2 separate regions of the Homo sapiens genome follow, and region 1 is linked to region 2. Evidence: fine-mapped expression QTL. Tissue or cell type: whole blood. Region 2 holds a variant in brackets; the other region holds the start of a gene. All regions are shown on one strand. Distances are between the middles of the regions.

Region 1 (8,180 bases), 53 kb before region 2:
CCCGGTGGAGTCATTAAAGGCAGGGTTTGAGACCAGATATGAGGAAGGGAAGGGATAAGCCAGGAGGGAAGGGAGTGAAGGGCCTTTCAGGCAGGCAGAGCAGTATGTGCAAAGGGTCAGAAGCATGGAAAAAGGTAGTGTCTTTGGTGAACTACAGGAAATTCAGTATGGCTGAAACTCAAAACGTGAGGGGGCTGGGGAAATGGGGCAGGTGATGAGACTGGGAGGCTTGGGGAGGTCAGACTATGATCTCATAACCTTTGTTAAAAAGAAAAGATTTTGTTCAAGGAAAATGGAAGGCATTTGAATAATGCTGAGCAGGGAGTGACATAGTTGGATTTGTACTTTAGGAAGGTGTCTGTTACTCCAATGAAAAGAATGGATTGAAAGAAGGAAGAGAAGTGTAGAAAGAAAAGTTAGGAGGCTCTTGCAAAAATTCATGTGAAAAGATGGTAGATGAGGGCAACAGCAGAGGTGATGGAGAAAAGGGGATGGGATATCAGAGATTGCTGGAGAGAAGATAGAACCAACACGTTCCAAGGGATTTCTGGATTATGGGATACGTGGAGAAGGGAATGGTGACAGTTAATTTCTGGGATTCCAGCTTGCAACCTGAGTGGGGATGGTCATTTGGGGAAGGAAGGAATGATGAGATCAGGTTTGCACATGATAAGGGGTCGGTGAGCTATACAGTAAAGAGCAGGCATGCAGCAGGTATGCAGAAATGTGGCCTAGAAGAGAGATGTCTGTGAGTCATCAGCCTATAGATGTTAATAAAAGCCTTGAAAAATGAATGAAATTGATTACCTAGAGGTGTGTATACAGTGAGACAATAAGAAGGTCCAAGCCAGAACTTTAAGGAACAGTGACATTCAGGGGGCATACAAAGGATCCCTCAAAGCAGACTGAGAGAACAGCTAGGAGGAGCTCCAGAAGAGATACATACCATAATGTAACTTTCCACTTATTTGCCTGTTAAATGTTGATAGAATAAAATCATGGCTCAGAAGCCAAACAACAAAAACAACTCAAGGAGAAAAGAATGGTCAATAATGTCAGCTCCTCCCGAGAGGTCAGGCAGTTAAGGACTTTTGAAAAGATCCTCCAGATTGAGCAGAAGAGATGTTACTTTCTCCTAGGGAAAGCAGTTACATTTGAGGGGCAGGCACAAATGGGAAGTGAGGAAGTAGGAACAGCTATATGCAGAAGACTCTTTCACAAAATGTGACAGTGAAGAAAAGTGAGGAAGCCTCTTAGTTAACGGGGTATTACAGGGTTAAAGAAAGATAGGAGAGGCTGGAGGATCTTTATGTCCTCCCAGGAGGAATGGGAGAAAGGAAGGAACTGGAGACGTGGGAAACACATGGAATAATCAGTTGAGTGAGGTCCCTGTGGAAGAGGAAGGGGATGGGATCCGTAACACAGGTAGAGGATTGGCCTTAAGTAGAAGAGACAGCACTTCGTTCTTATAGGAAGGAAGGAGAAAAGATTGAAGAGGATGCAGATAAAATTTGAGGGAGGAGGCAGAAATCTGAGGGAATTCAAAACAGATGGCCTCAATTTCCTCAGTGAGCCAGAAGACCAGGTTGTCCACTCTTAATTCCTTCCTTTCCTTCACCCCACCATGTCTGCTTTGTCACTGAGCCCTGCTGATCCCACTGCCTAAAGAGCTCTTGAAACCATCCACTTTCTCCTTCTCTCCGGCCACTACTCCAGTTCAGGCCAGTGTTATACCCTCCAGAGTTTCTGCAACAGCCAACTGTCCTTCTTCTCAGGCTCTTTCTCCAGTCTCCACATGGCTGTCAGAGTGGTATTTCTAAAATGAATCTGATCATATCGCTCCAAGCTTCCAATGATTTGGTGACTCTCCATTATTCTTGGGTTAAATGAATTTCTTTCTGTGGCCTCCTAGACCCTGCATGGTCTAAGCCTCCATTTACCTCTCCCACAGACTCTCCCTCTCTCGTCACCTCATGCTGTAAGTGTCAGGCTCACTGAACTGCTTTATCCCTCACACACACACTATTTTCCTTCATGTGGGCTTTTACATGCTGCTCCCTTGGCTTGGCATATTCTCCACCCACTCCATCAAGTTTAAGTTTAAATGCCACTTCCTCCAGAAAGACTCTTCTGACCTCCCTACACTGGCCTAGGTTACTCTGCTGTGTGCTGCTGTGTTACAACACTCACTCCACAGCCTGTAAGCTCCATGAGGATAAGGACCATGTCCATTTTGTTCACACTTGTGCTGCCAACTCTCATCACAATGCCTAGCAGAGTAGGTGCCTAGTATGTGTTTGTTAAATGAATGAATTAGCGTTTTGATTAATTAATCTACTGAAAACAATGGTGTGAGGGATGTGGGGTAATGAGTGTGAAGAAAATAGAAAAAAAATCATCTATTTATTTATGAAGGGCCCAGTTGAGGTTTGAATTTTTTAGAAGTATGAATTTATAGAAGCGTCCCCTGGTGTGGTTGAGAAATCATTCTAGTTAGGGGCAATAATTTGAGGGATGAGTATAGAAGACAAGGAAACACAGTGGCCAAGGAGTGGTTGAAGGGATGATCCTTAGCATATGAGCTGGAAAGAAAGCACAAAGTCAGAAAGGAACAGAGTAGGAGAAAACAAAGAGGTCAAGGGCAAGAGGTCATTATGAGGTCAAAGAGTGTAATGGGAGCGAGAACATCTGAAAGCTGGAAGGATATAGGAGGTTGTGGGTAGAGAGAGGAATGCAAGAGTTTAGAATTTTAAAGGTGGAATAGTTCTACAGAGTGGTCCTGGGAGGGAGGAAGGTAACAGGAGCTAAGGAGGTCAAGAATCTGTGAAGCTGTGGTGTTGAAGGACACTGAGAAACCATGGCAGGATACACTATCCAGATCTCGAAGTTTTCAGGGAACAAGAGGGTATACCTGGGAGATCTACGTATGAGAAGGGGTGAAGGTGTGAGCTTGATAAGTTAAGCAGAGTTTATTCAGAAGTTGGGACAGGTCTTCCTGTGGTGTGCATGCCATCCATGACTGTCTCCTGGGGGTTGTACAAGTGGCTGTGTGGTAAGGGCAACTGTGGCACAGCCTCCTGTTAGTGACAGGCTTCTAGGACACCCACTATGTATGGGCAGCTCCAAGGAAGTAAACCTAATAAGATGTGCTGTGACAGTTGTGACAGTGCTTCTGATGGATGTGGATTGCAGTGACAATGTCTCCTGAGAGGTGCTGGTCTACTTGTTTGTTGCTGGTGACAGTGTTTCTGGAGAGTGTTAGCAGTAACAATGTCTTCCATGGTATGTGTTGGCCTTGACAATGAACCGGTGGGAGTATGTTGGTTGCAGCATTTCTCCTGTGGGTGTGTGTTGTCATGAGAGCATTTTCCGTAGGTGTGTGTTGGCTTGATAGAGTCTGCTGTAGGTGTGTGTTGGTTCTGACTGGGGGTGCTTCCTGGGGGTGGGCTTCCTGGAAGTGTATGATGGCTGTGAGGGTATCTCTTGAGGATGTGTGTTCCCTGGGACTGTGTCCTCTTGTGGGTTGAGTAGGGCTATGACTGTGTCCCTATGGGTATTTGAGAAGTTGACATAAGCGACAATATTTTTCTGGCCTATGACCTTGTGGCTGTGGGCCCAGCCCGCCACACTGAGTTCATTGTGCTTCTAGACCTCCCTCTCCCCACCCCCTCCACGTGGGACCCACGCCTGCGGTGACCTTGCTCTGTCCCCTGCACGGGATTCTGAGCTGGGTATCCCAGACACAAACTCCCAGTTGCTCCAATCTCCCACTCAGAACACGTCTGGGTGACCCCCCCCTCCATCCACTTCAGGCTGTGCCTGCCTCTCCTCTGCTTCTCTGTACTTCTCCCCACTCAGTTTCTTTGTCTCTGTCTCAGTTGGTCTCTGTCACACACCCATCCTCCACATTCTGACACATGGGCTCCCACAGAGCGGGCAACACACCCTCACAGGGACTCGCTCACCATGACACACGGTCATTCTGACCCTCACACCCTCAGAGTGACACGCACATGCACACACAGCCAGAGAGACGCCCAGGGACACACAACCTCCCAGTGACACGCACTGACACACTCCGACGATGCACTGGAACACAACGCTGTCGCACCCCACACCCCCGGCGCACGCTCCCGCCGCCACCCTCCCCGACTCGATGACACACGCACACAAAGACCCCCAGGCCCTGCCCCCACGCTCACGTTCACGCCCGCCCGGGTCCCGCAGGCCCAGGCCCCCCCTCCCCCATTGTCTCCGGCTCAGAACAAAGCCCCCGGCTCCGCCGCCGCTGCCGCAGCCCAGGGGAGGCCGGCGGGCAGGGCGGGCGCGGCCAGACGGGCCGGGCGGGCGCGGGCACTGACCTCCGCGCGACGCGGGCTCCCTCGCCCGGTGCTGGGGCGCCGTCCGGCCGCGGTCAGCCCCCCGGGCAGCGCCCGCTCGCGCGGGGCCTGAGGCCGCGCATCGTCCGCAGTCGCTGTCTCCGAGGCCCGCGATCCCCTCCGGGCAGCCGCCGTCGGTCCGCGCGCCCTTGGCCGTCGATCGGTCCGTCCGCTGACGCCCGGGCGCCGCCTCCTGCACAGCCGCCCCGCCGAGGATGCGAGCTCCGCTGCCGCGGCCCCGCGCCCCCTCCCCTCCCCTCCCCCCGCCCTCCGCGCGGTAACCCGAGCCCCCGCCCCTCCGCCCGCGGAGCCCCCGCCCCCGCCCCCACCCGCGCTCCGCGCCGCCGCCCCCCCTTCCCCCCGGCGCCCGCCCGGCCTCCCTCCGCCCCTCCACTTCCCGGCCCCAGGCCCCGGCTCCGGATCCGGCCCCAGCGCCGCGCCGCGCCCCCGTCCCGGTTCCCTTCCCTTCTCCCCGTCACTTCTCCCGTCCTCTCCTCCCATTCGGTTCTCTACGCCCTCTCGTCTCTTCCCCTTCTCGCCGCTCCCTGCTGCTCACCTCCTCCTCTTCCATCTTCTTTCCATCCCCTATTCCCCTCTTCTCCCTCAGTGCCCTGGTCTCCCTCTCGCCCCTTCTTTTTCCCAACCGTCATCTCCATTCCCCTCTGCCTTTCTCCCATCCTCTTCTTCTCGCCCCATCTCCATCATTTTCTCCCCAGCTCTTCTCCCCTTTCTCTTCTCCTTACCCCTTCTGCTTGATCTCTCTCCAGCCTCTTTACATCAGATTCTCCTTCCCCACCTCTCCTTTTATCCTTTTCTTCCTATCCCTTTCTCCCCGTCTCTTCTCCCCACCTTTCTCCCCATCCCCTTCTCCCTGTGTCTTTCGCCTCACCTCATCATCCCCTTTTCCTCACGCCTTCTCCTCATTCCCTTTTCTCACCCCTGCCCTTTTCACTACCCGCTGTCTCTTCCCCTTCTTCCATCGTAACCTCGGCCTTCTCCCCTGTTAGTCACTTTTCATTATCCCATGATTTCTGTCTCTTTTCTCTCCTTCACCCCCAGGCTCCCTTTCCCCCACTTTCTCTTTATCCCAAATTTGAGGGTAGAGATCGGGAGATATTGGAAAGAAGAGCTTTGGGGATGGTGGTCCCACTCACGATATACTCCCTAGAAAAATTAAGTGAGGAGGAAACCGGGCAGGGAAGTGGGAAGGGGCTCAAAAAACCAACTTGGGAGAGAATATGGGGAGAGGGGAAATCAGACAGAGACAAAGAGCAAGCAATCTTAAAGGAACTGGGAAGAGTTCTGACTCCTGTCCTTCTTCCTTAGGACTGCGAGTAGACTGTGAGAAAAACAGGTTTTCTGGACTTGAGATGTGTACAAATGGCACAAAGAAATCAGGAACTTCTGTGGAGAAGGAACACAGTTTCAGCTGAAGAAGAAGGGAGTGTGATTTTGGAAGAGGAGTGAGGGAGAGACTGGGGTCCTTGATCATATCCACGGCGCTTGGGCAGCTGGGTGGATGGATGGTGGTGAGGCTGGCTGTGCTCCACAAAAGGAGCAGCAGGAGGCTGCAGGGGGTTCGTATGAGGAGATGATGACTGTGACTTGGGGCTGCTGACTTTGAAGTGCTGGTTGGGTAGGTAGGTCTGCAACTTAGAGGAGCGGTCTGGGATGGACATAAATATTTGGGAGTCATCTGCAAATGCCGTATAAGCTTGAATATAGGGTGAAGTTTTTGCTTTTTTGTTTTTCCAAAATCATCCCTCAGGAAAGAGGGAGTAACCTTATATTTGAGTCCTTACAAGGTCTCTCATATTACAGGGTTTGCTCTCATTTACTTTATTTTGAACAACAAACCACTGGATAGGGCAGTATGGTATGGTGACTAAGCTTGTGGACTCTGGAGCCAGACTCCCTGGCTCGGGGTCCAGACTCTCCTATTTACAAGCTGTGTGGCACTGGGAAAGTTACTTAACTTGTCTCTGCCTCAGTTTTCTCATCTATAAAGTGGGCCTAAGGATTAAATTATGTAATATATATAAAGCACTATATACCTGGCACTATATGGTAAGTGTCCAATAAATGCTAACTATTTTTACTGTTTGGCTAAGACCCATTGACCTGAAATGTCCTCAACAATGCTATTTTGGATGTATTGTAGTCAAAGAAATTTAACACAGCTTTGGTAACTATTCCTGGTAGTATGACCTCATAATCGCATGTGTTGGATGTCTCAAAATATGCTTTTTAAAGATTGCTTTAAAAAGCAATACAGTAGTACTTGGAAGAGGTTTCTGGGCTGCCGAAAATGTTCTATTTCTTGACCTGAGTGGTTATATGGACCTGAGGGATGTTTCACTCTGACAGTTCATTGAGCTGAATATTTATGATGGCTTGTGGCCTTTTCCATATAGATGTTATATTTCAGTAAAAAAAGTTAACAGAAATATAATTTTTAAAAAGTATTACATTAAGTGATGTTTTGAAGTCATGAATATACTCAGGCAGGGTGCATGCAAAAAACCAACTGTTCTAGTGTGATGCAAAGGAAACTTGTGACTTAGGATAAAGTTTCCAAGGACTGCATCATCTGTGAATTCAAACTGTGCTGTGTCCTCTCCCAAGCCCTTCGCTTAAACTGAAGAGAAGGACATCTGTTCTGGGAAAACATGTAAGATGGCTGAAAAAGTGATCCTAATGATGAGAAAGACACTGCTTGTGTTGAGTATGCATAAAATTGCTTCATAATTTATGAGAATGGAAAAGACAATATTTATCAGTTATATATTTTTATATGATATATGAATTTAAATATATGTCCAATAAAGTCCATTAACTCATAGAAGTACACTTTTGATTGTTTCATCCTCATCCTTAAAGGTTTACATTTCTAGGTTGGTTGAAAAGCTTTTTGGATCTTCTCACTGGGAAAAATGAAAAATTACTGTTTGGGCAAGACCCATTAACCTGAAATGTCCTCAACAACCCAATTTGTGTTGCTTTGTATACAGTAAGCTGTATTGTATAGTAAGTGTGACAGATGGTAAGTGAAGGTAAGGGAGTGAATGAGATTACAGAGGGAGAGCATGTACATTAGGAAGAAAAGAAGGTCTAGGACAGATGCTGAGAAGCTCCAACATGTAAAGGTTGAGAAGAGGAGGAGCCCTCAAAGGAAAGTGAGAGGATGTGGCCAGACAGGGAGGAGAAAGAAAGGGAGGTGAGTGGTGCCACTGAAGCCCAGGGAATGGCCACAGAAGAAGCCATGAAGTGAGGAGAGGTCATTAGGTTGGAATGACACAGAGGAGGCCAGTGAGGTAAGGACTGAAAAGTATCCATTGGATTTGGCTGGGGCCTAGGGGGCAGGCTGGTGACCTTGGGGACAATGTGGTAGGTGGAGTGGTAAGGATGAAGGCTAATTAGCACTCAGTAACTAAGGAGTGAGTGGAAGGTGAGGAACTGAAGACTTGGAGTAGAGCTTATTCTTTAAGGAGGCCTAACTACAGGGGAGGAGAGAGACCTATAACTGGCGTAAGGGATAGGAGTTTTAGGGGGTCAGGAAGTTTTTCAAATAGAAGAATCCAAATTCATTTATTTTCTTGCTTCCTTCATTTATTGAAGATACATTTAGGTGCCTGCTATGTGCAACTTTATAGTTAAGATACAAAAATTAAGACATGACTAAGGAACTCATGGTAAGCTGTGAAGACAGACCTCTCAACTGACAACAGAAGGTACAATAGAGGAGAGCATGGGGTTGTGGATATAGGGGGCTTCCTAATCCAGACCAGGGCTGGGACATCA
Region 2 (8,180 bases):
AGAAAAAGGAGCTGATACTTTTTTCTTTTTTTTTCTAGATGGGGTTTCACCATGTTGGCCAGGGTTGTCTTGAACTCCTGACCTCAAGTGAGCCACCTGCCTTGACCTCCCAAAGTGCTGGGATTGCAGGTGTGAGCCACGACAACTGGCTGAGACTAACATTTATACTGCTTATATCTAGGCCCATGTCTGTGAAGATATCCCTGACATCTAATCAGTTATCTCTCAATTTTTGCCAAAATTTCCACCTTGCATTTCCATGTCACGAATTATATTTATTCTATCTTCTATTCACAATTTTTTTTTGAGATGGAGTCTTGCTCTGTTGCCCAGGCTGGAGTGCAGTGGTGCGATCTCAGCTCACTGCAACCTGCACCTCCCGGTTCAAGTGATTCTCCTGCCTCAGCCTCCTGAGTAGCTGGGATTACAGGCACCCGCCACCATGCCTGGCTAATTTTTGTATTTTTAGTAGAGACAGCATGAGCCACTGCACTGGGAATGTTCACATTCTTTCCAGCAGTTTTTGTACATCTTTGGAAGAATATCTATGTCCAAATTACTTTGTAAAGCTCTGGGTCCTGTCGTGGCAAAATTGTAGATATATAGGAAATGTGGAGTGAAAAACTGTCACACTCAACCTGTGCAAAGATGTATGTTCAGGCTGGGCATGGTGGCTCATGCCTGTAATCCCAGCACTTTGGGAGGCTGAGGTGGGCAGATCACCTGAGGTCAGGAGTTCGAGACCAGCCTGGCCAACATGGCAAAACCCCGTCTCTAGTAAAAATACAAAAATTAGCTGGGCATAGTGGCATGGACCTGTAATCCCAGCTACTTGGGAGGCTGAGGCAGGAGAATCGCCTGAACCCAGGAGGCAGAGGTTGCAGTGAGCCGAGATTGCGCCACTGCACTCCAGCCTGTGTGACAGAGTGAGACTCCATCTCAAAAAAAAAAATTATGTTCAAAGATGTATGTTAACTGCAGTGCCATTTATGAGTGAAATTTTGGAGTATATATATTATACATTGCCATGTATGCAAAATTGTATGTTTTCCACTATGTGTCCATATGCCTAGAAGGATGAGTATAAAAATGTTCACCAAAGTTAATCTGGATGACAGGATTTTGGGTGTCTGATTTTCTTATGTTTTTCCACATTTTTGAATTTTTTCAATAAATGTAATATTGTAAAAAATAAGAAAGCTTTTCAAAAATTTCATCAAAATTGCATTCATTTTCTTTCTCCTATTTAAAACTCTTGAACACCTCATTTCACAGTGGTTCTCCACCGGGGCAATGCAAATGTTTCAGGGACATTTGACAATGTCTAGAGACATTTTTGTTGCCATAACTGTGAATAGTGCTACTCACATTTAATGGATAGAGGCCAGAGGTGCTACTAGACATCTTATAACGCACAGAGAGTTTCCCACAATAAATTATCTGGCTCTAAATGTTAACTATGCCGGAGTTGGGAAATCTCAGAATTCATTATCCTGATAGGCTCTTTATCACCATCTGGTGGTGAGAGAAGTGCCTGCAACTCCCATGTAGTTTCAGCCAGAAACCAAACTAGGGCCTCAGAAAAAAGATGGGAGGCCCTAAGAAGGGTAGCTATAGTTACAAAGGGAGGTAGAAAAAGAGCAAGTTAATTCATGGCTGAGAGGGTCTGTGATGCTCTTACTAAGAACTGTAGTTGCTCCTGACGCTGCCATTCTGTATCTATGAACGCTATATTATGATTTCCATTTTCCTGCCGCGCTGGGACTCCAGAGACTCAGAAGAAGGAAGTTAGATGCTGAGGCAGGAAAGGCTTTGGGGAAACTTTATGGATTTAATGTGGTTGATATAAGGGGGTAATCTCTACTTGCATCCATAGGTGCCTCCCCATTACATAGGATGATAAAGCTTTAGCTGTGCCAGGAACAATTCTAGATCGCAGCATGTGGGACCAAGTCAAAGCTCCTTGTTTTGGCTTGATGTAACCGTTACTTCCATTTCACTTTTCCTAAGGGATGCATTTGCAAGGCCTAGGCTTCATTCCTTGACTCCACCCCTCCTACCCCCAATTCGAAAGCCACGTAGAAGAAATATCTGTTCTTACTTGCTTATCAGTTTTACTTCTTTTATTTTCATCCACCAGTTTCCTGTTTTCTAATGATCACTTACTAATGAATTTCCCATCTGGCAGCTATGTCTCATGCTCCTCTCTGCTGCTCTCAACAGGGCTGTAGGCCACTTTCCTGCCTGCTGCTCACTTCTGAAAGATCTGTATTCTCTCACTCCTCAAAAGGATGCTGCTTTCTTCATACAGGTGTTGGGAAGAGGAGAATGTTGTATGCCCCTCATTTTCTTTTTGCACTACCTCTTTAGTATCCATCACCCCATTGTCCAAATCTATCTTGACATAGCAATATCTACCAATGCCTTGAAGTAGGTTGCAGGTTGATTTCCCCAAGAGCAGACGGTAGAACAGTGTGGAGGGCAAGATGTTTATTAGGGATCAACGCCTGTGAAGAAAAGGGGCAAAAGTAGGATTTGGCAGAGAAAGACATTGAGCCGTGATGCAGGCCTTACAAACCTTCCCTGAACCTGGTGGAGAGCTCTGTAGAGTGAAGACCAACAAAGCATCCTGTGTCAGGCTACAATGGCTGGGTCTTTCTTTTCTGTCTCAGCCTCTGGATACAGGCTACCCCAGGAAGGGCATTACCTCAGGTGAAGGGGCTCCCTGCAATTGAGGCAGATTGGGAAGATCTGACAGCTGAAGCCTGGCTGCTTACTTCATTCCCCTCAGTTGGGCAGCAAGTCTTCTCTTGCAGGAGGTTCTGGGTGGCACAGTTCCACGTCTTCACAGAGGAGTGGATGAGAATTACAATGTAAACTACAAGATAAACATGATTTTTCCCATGGTTCAAAGGAAAATCGCCAAAGATACATAAACTGTCAGGCAGGTTGTTCCTGGTTCACATCTTTTCCAATTTGGAATAAATGCAAATTCCTTGAATTTCATTAAAAATAACAATGACATTGGATAACTGTTGCCTCAGGAACCCACAACGACGCTCTCATTCTGTCCTGGCCTACTCACATATCTTCCCTCCATTCCTCACCCCTTTTTTGAGGTTTACATTTTAATTCTATTGTATTTTAAAAATCCTATTCAGAGAAAATAAACTATAGATACAGGAAACAATAAGGAAAGCACATTTATAAACACTGTTTCAGTCAAAATAAAGAACTTGGACTGGCCCAGCGTGGTGGCTCACACCTGTAATCCCAGCACTTTGGGAGGCTGAGGCAGGCAGATCGCCTGAGGTCAGGAGTTTGAGACCAGCCTGGCCAACATGGCAAAACCTCCTCTCTACTAAAAAGTATAAAAATTATCTGGGAGTGGTGGCAGGTGCCTGTAATCCCAGCCACTCGGGAGGCTGAGGCAGGAGAATCGCTTGAGCCTGAGAGGTTGCAGTGAGCCGAGATTGCACCACTGCACTCCAGCCTGGGCGACAGAGCAAGACTGTATCT[C/CA]AAAAAAAAAAAAAAAAAAAAAGAACTTGGACCCTCTTCTTCAGGACCTTAACAATTAAGATGGAGTGTAGCCACAACTACATTTCAGTATAATAGCAATAATAATGTTAATAAATGCTATAATTACTTCTATTAACGTGACTTTTGCTGCGGTTATTGCTGCTTCTGCTGTTGTTGGCATTGCTACTACCTAACATTATTGGCACGTGTACCATGTTTCAGGCATATGTATTGTTTCACGTTATTCTTAACACTTCACTGAGGTTGCACCATTTTATGTATGAAGGAAATGAAGCAGAGACAGGTTAACTAACTCATCCAAGGTCATACATGTAGTAAATAGTGGAGGCCCTTCGCACAACTAACAGCCTGGCTTTCACAGGCTGGCATTTTCTAACTCTCAACACTTGGCTTATACCTGCTTCTTCATCTTGAATTACCTTCTTCTTGCTTCCTCTCTCTCTTTGTACCCTTTGACCTACACTTCTGCTTTCCCCCACCCACCATCCCAGCTTCTGGTAACAAACATTCTACTTTCCTTCTTTTTTCTTTTTATTTTTTTATGTTTTTGAGACAGTCTCCATGTGCCGCCCAAGCTGGAGTGCAGTAGAGCTATCTCAGCTCACTGCAACCTCTGCCTCCCAGGTTCAAGTGATTCTCCTGTCTCAGCCTCCTGAGTAGCTGGGATTACAGGCGCCCGCCACAACACCCGGCTAATTTTTGTATTTTCAGTAGAGATGGGGCTTCACTGTGCTGCCCAGGCTGGTCTACAACTCCTGACCTCATGTGATCCGCCTGCCTCAACCTCCCAAAGTTCTGGGATTACTGGCATGAGCCACCGCACCTGACCACAAACATTCTACTTTCTACTTCTATGATTTCAAATTTAGATTCCACATGTAAGTAACTCACAACTTATTCATGTGATTTGATGTTGTTCTAGAATCCATCACCCTGCTTCCCTTTTCTACAGGCCTTGTGACTCCTTCTTTCCCACTGTACTTGGTTCTCTGCTTTAACTGACTGGAACATCCCTAAATCTACTGAAGTGATCCCCAACTCCCATGTCTCTGTTTCCCACTTGCAATGACTCTGCCCCATTCCACTGACCATGAGAGCCCTGTTCCTGCCAATGTCATAACTCTAGCTACCTCTAATCCTGTGAGCTGCACCTAGACCCAGTGTCTCCCCCTGACCACCCCCCCCTTTTTTTTGGTTTCACAAAACAATTTGTTAATAGATGATATTTTCATTTTGAATTACTTGTACCATGATGATTAGTAGATCAGTAAATAAATTTGATAATCAGCCGGGCATGGTGGCTCACACTTGTAATCTCAGCATTTTGAGAGGCCGAGGCGGGTGGATCACGAGGTCAGGAGTTCGAGACCAGCCTGACCAACATGGTGAAACCCCGTCTCTACTAAAAATACAAAAATTAGCCAGGCGTGGTGGCATGCGCCTGTAATCCCAGCTACTCAGGAGGCTGAGGCAGGAGAATCACTTGAACCCGGGAGGCAGAGGTTGCAGTGAGCCGAGATCGCACCACTACTGCACTCCAGCCTGGGCAACAGAGTGAGACTCCATCTCAAAATAAATAAATCTGATAATCGTACAAACTTAGAACTAGAAAGACTGGTCTAATATGTTTACAGAGTGAGGATTTTGAACGCAGGTGTCTCCCCTTCTTGATGATCTCATCCCTCCTGACTCCTGAGGTCTCTCGCCCCAGTGCCACCCAACCCACTGACACTAATCCTCTCCAATCCTAACCCCACCTTGATGGCAGCGCTACTCTCTCCACTTCTATCACAGAAATCCCCATCTCTACACAGGCATCTTTGCTTTATCCCAATTTACCTTTTTCCCATCTTTTGTGTGATTTCTTGAGAACGGCCTCTGAATCTCATTTAATAACCATGCAGCTTAAAATCCTGAGGAATTTATCAAAGACTTTTGAAATTTTATACACACTAATTTTGGTTTGAAAGTCAAGGTTAACATATATATGATACCTTGTTAAAGGATGTTAAAAACGTTTAATTCACACATAATATTCATACATGTTTATGCAGTACAGAGTGAGATTTTAAAAAACTTTTATTTAGCCTCAGGGTTACATGTGCAGATTTGTTATATAGGTAAACTCGTGTCATGAGGGTTTGTTGTACAGATTATTTCATCACCCAGGTACTAAGCCTGGGTGATGACAACTGCAGGCTGGCATTCTCTAACTCTCAACATTTGGCTTATACCTGCTTCTTCATCTTTCTGGTCCTCTCTCTCCTCCCACCCTCCACTCTCAGGTAGGTCCCAGTGTCTGTTGTTCCTCTCTTTGAGTCCATGAGTTCTCATCATTTAGCTCCCACTTATAAGTGAGAACGTGCAGTATTTATTTTTCTGTTCCTGCATTAGTTTGCTAAGGACAATGGTCTCCAGCTCCATCTATGTTCCTGCAAAAGGCATAATCTTGTTCATTTTATGGCTGCATGGTATTCCATGGTGTATGTGCAGGGTGAGATTTTGATACATGTATATAATGTGTAATGATTAGATCAGGGTAATTAGCATATCTATCACCTTAAACATTGATCATTTCTTTATGTTAAGATCATTAAAATCTTTTCTTCTCACTTTTTGAAAATATACAATGAATTATTGCTAACTATAGTCACCCTCCAGAACTATAGAACCCTAGAACTTATTCCTCCTATCTAGCTGTAATTTTGTATTCTTTAACCAACCTCTCCCTATCCCTTTTACAGCCTTTCCCTTCCCAGCCTCTAGTAACCACTGTTCTGTTTACTTCTATGAGAGCAACTCTTTTAGTACTGACCTATGAGAGAACATGTGTTATTTATCTTTTTTTTTTTCTTTTGAGACCAAGTCTTGCTCTCTTGCTCAGGCTGGATTACAATGGCACGATCTCGGTTCACTGCAACCTCTGCCTCCCTGGTTCAAACAATTCTCTTGCCTCAGCCTCCCAAGTGGCTAGAATTACAGGCGCCTGCCACCACGCCTGTCTAATTGTTTTTGTATTTTTAGTAGAGACGAGGTTTCACCATGTTGGCCAGGGTGGTCTCAAACTCCTGACCTCAGGGGATCTGCCCGCCTCGGCCTCCCAAAGTGTCAGGATTACAGGCGTGAGCCACCACACCCGGCCAAACATGCATTATTTGTCTTTCTGTGCTTGGCTTATTTCACATTAGAGACTTTTATGAATTCATCAAACAAACATAAAAAGCATTCTGAAAATGGTAATTGAACAGTGAGCAGTTTGTGGGCGGCAAGCCACCCAGGTGCTGAGGCAAGAGACCAAGGGCACGAGCTGTTCCAGTATAATATATAAAATATACTATACTATATTATATTATAATATATATTATATATATGATAATATATATAAAATAAGAATAGTTATACTAGATATATATCTTAGATATGATTATATATGAATATCATTAATCATTAGTTTGTAGTAATTATTCTTTATTCCAATATTATAATAATCCTTGCTCTACAATCATAACCTAAGAAAAACCAGGCCATACAGAGATAGGAGCTGAGGGGACACAGTGAGAAGTGACCAGAAGAGTGCGAGGCTTCTGCTATGCCCAGACAGGGCCACCAGAGGGCTCCTTGGTCTAGTGGTGATGCCAGTGTCTGGAAAGACTCCCTTTGCCAAGTGGACTGTGGTCTAGCGGTAGCGTCAGTGTCAAGGAAAAACACCCACTACTTAGCAGACCAGGAAAGGGAGTCTCCCTTTCGCCGGGGGAGTTTAGAGAAGACTCTACTCCTCCACCTCTTGTGGAGGGCCTGACATCAGTCAGGCCCGCCCGCAGTTATCTGGAGGCCTAACCGTCTCCCTGTGATGCTGTGCCTCAGTGGTCACGCTCCTAGTCCGTTTTCATGTTCCATCCTGTACACCTGGCTCTGCCTTTTAGATAACAGTAGCAAAATTAGTGAAAGTACTAAAAGTCTCTGATATGCAGAAATAATGGTGTCAGCTGTCTCTCTCTCTCTCCCTCTGTCTCTCTGCCTTGGCTGCCAGGCAGGGAAGGGACCCCTGTCCAGTGGACATGTGACCCACGTGACCTTATCTATCATTGGAGATGACTCACACTCTTTACCCTGCCCCTTTTGCTTTGTATCCAATAAATAACTGCGCAGCCAGACATTCAGGGCCACTACCGGTCTCCGCGTCTTGGTGGTAGTGGTCCCCTGGGCCCAGCTGTCTTTTCTTTTACCTCTTTGTCTTGCGTCTTTATTTCTACGTTCTCTTGTCTCTGCACATGGGGAGAAACCCACCAACCCTGTGGGGCTGGCCCCTACACAGTTTTTAAGGTTACAGTGATGTGAGAGACAGGCACCATGTGGGGCAGGGGTTCTGCTTCTATCATATTTCCATTTTGTTGTTTTAGGAGATCCTTCCAACTCTCACTAACATTATTTTCCAGAGAACAAAAGAAAAACTATACTCTCCAAGAACATGTTTCCTTTGTAATTTTTCTGTCCTCAAACTTTTTCTGGAGAGATGAGTCATTTGACCTGACATTGAGAATAGGCTTGAAGCCCTTTGAGAGGACAAAGGAGATAGAGTCAGCATTCCTATCTCCATGCTCTGAAGATCCAAGTCACTTGGTTACTGCTCCCTGGGCTGT

What was found. PIP is the estimated chance that this variant, and not a neighbour inherited with it, causes the effect.
Region 1: it holds the start of DCHS1, and the variant in region 2 is fine-mapped to the expression of DCHS1 in whole blood (INTERVAL, PIP above 0.99).

What each region holds. Positions count from the first base shown.
Region 1 is chr11:6,651,202-6,659,381 of GRCh38, forward strand. DCHS1 (dachsous cadherin-related 1) reads right to left here and starts at 4,608. Exons shown (of 21, transcript NM_003737.4): 1 at 4,362-4,608.
Region 2 is chr11:6,704,585-6,712,764 of GRCh38, forward strand. No RefSeq gene overlaps it. Among named protein-coding and RNA genes, the nearest start is that of MRPL17, 25 kb to the left of the region's middle. The variant C/CA (reference allele first, on the strand shown) is at 3,520.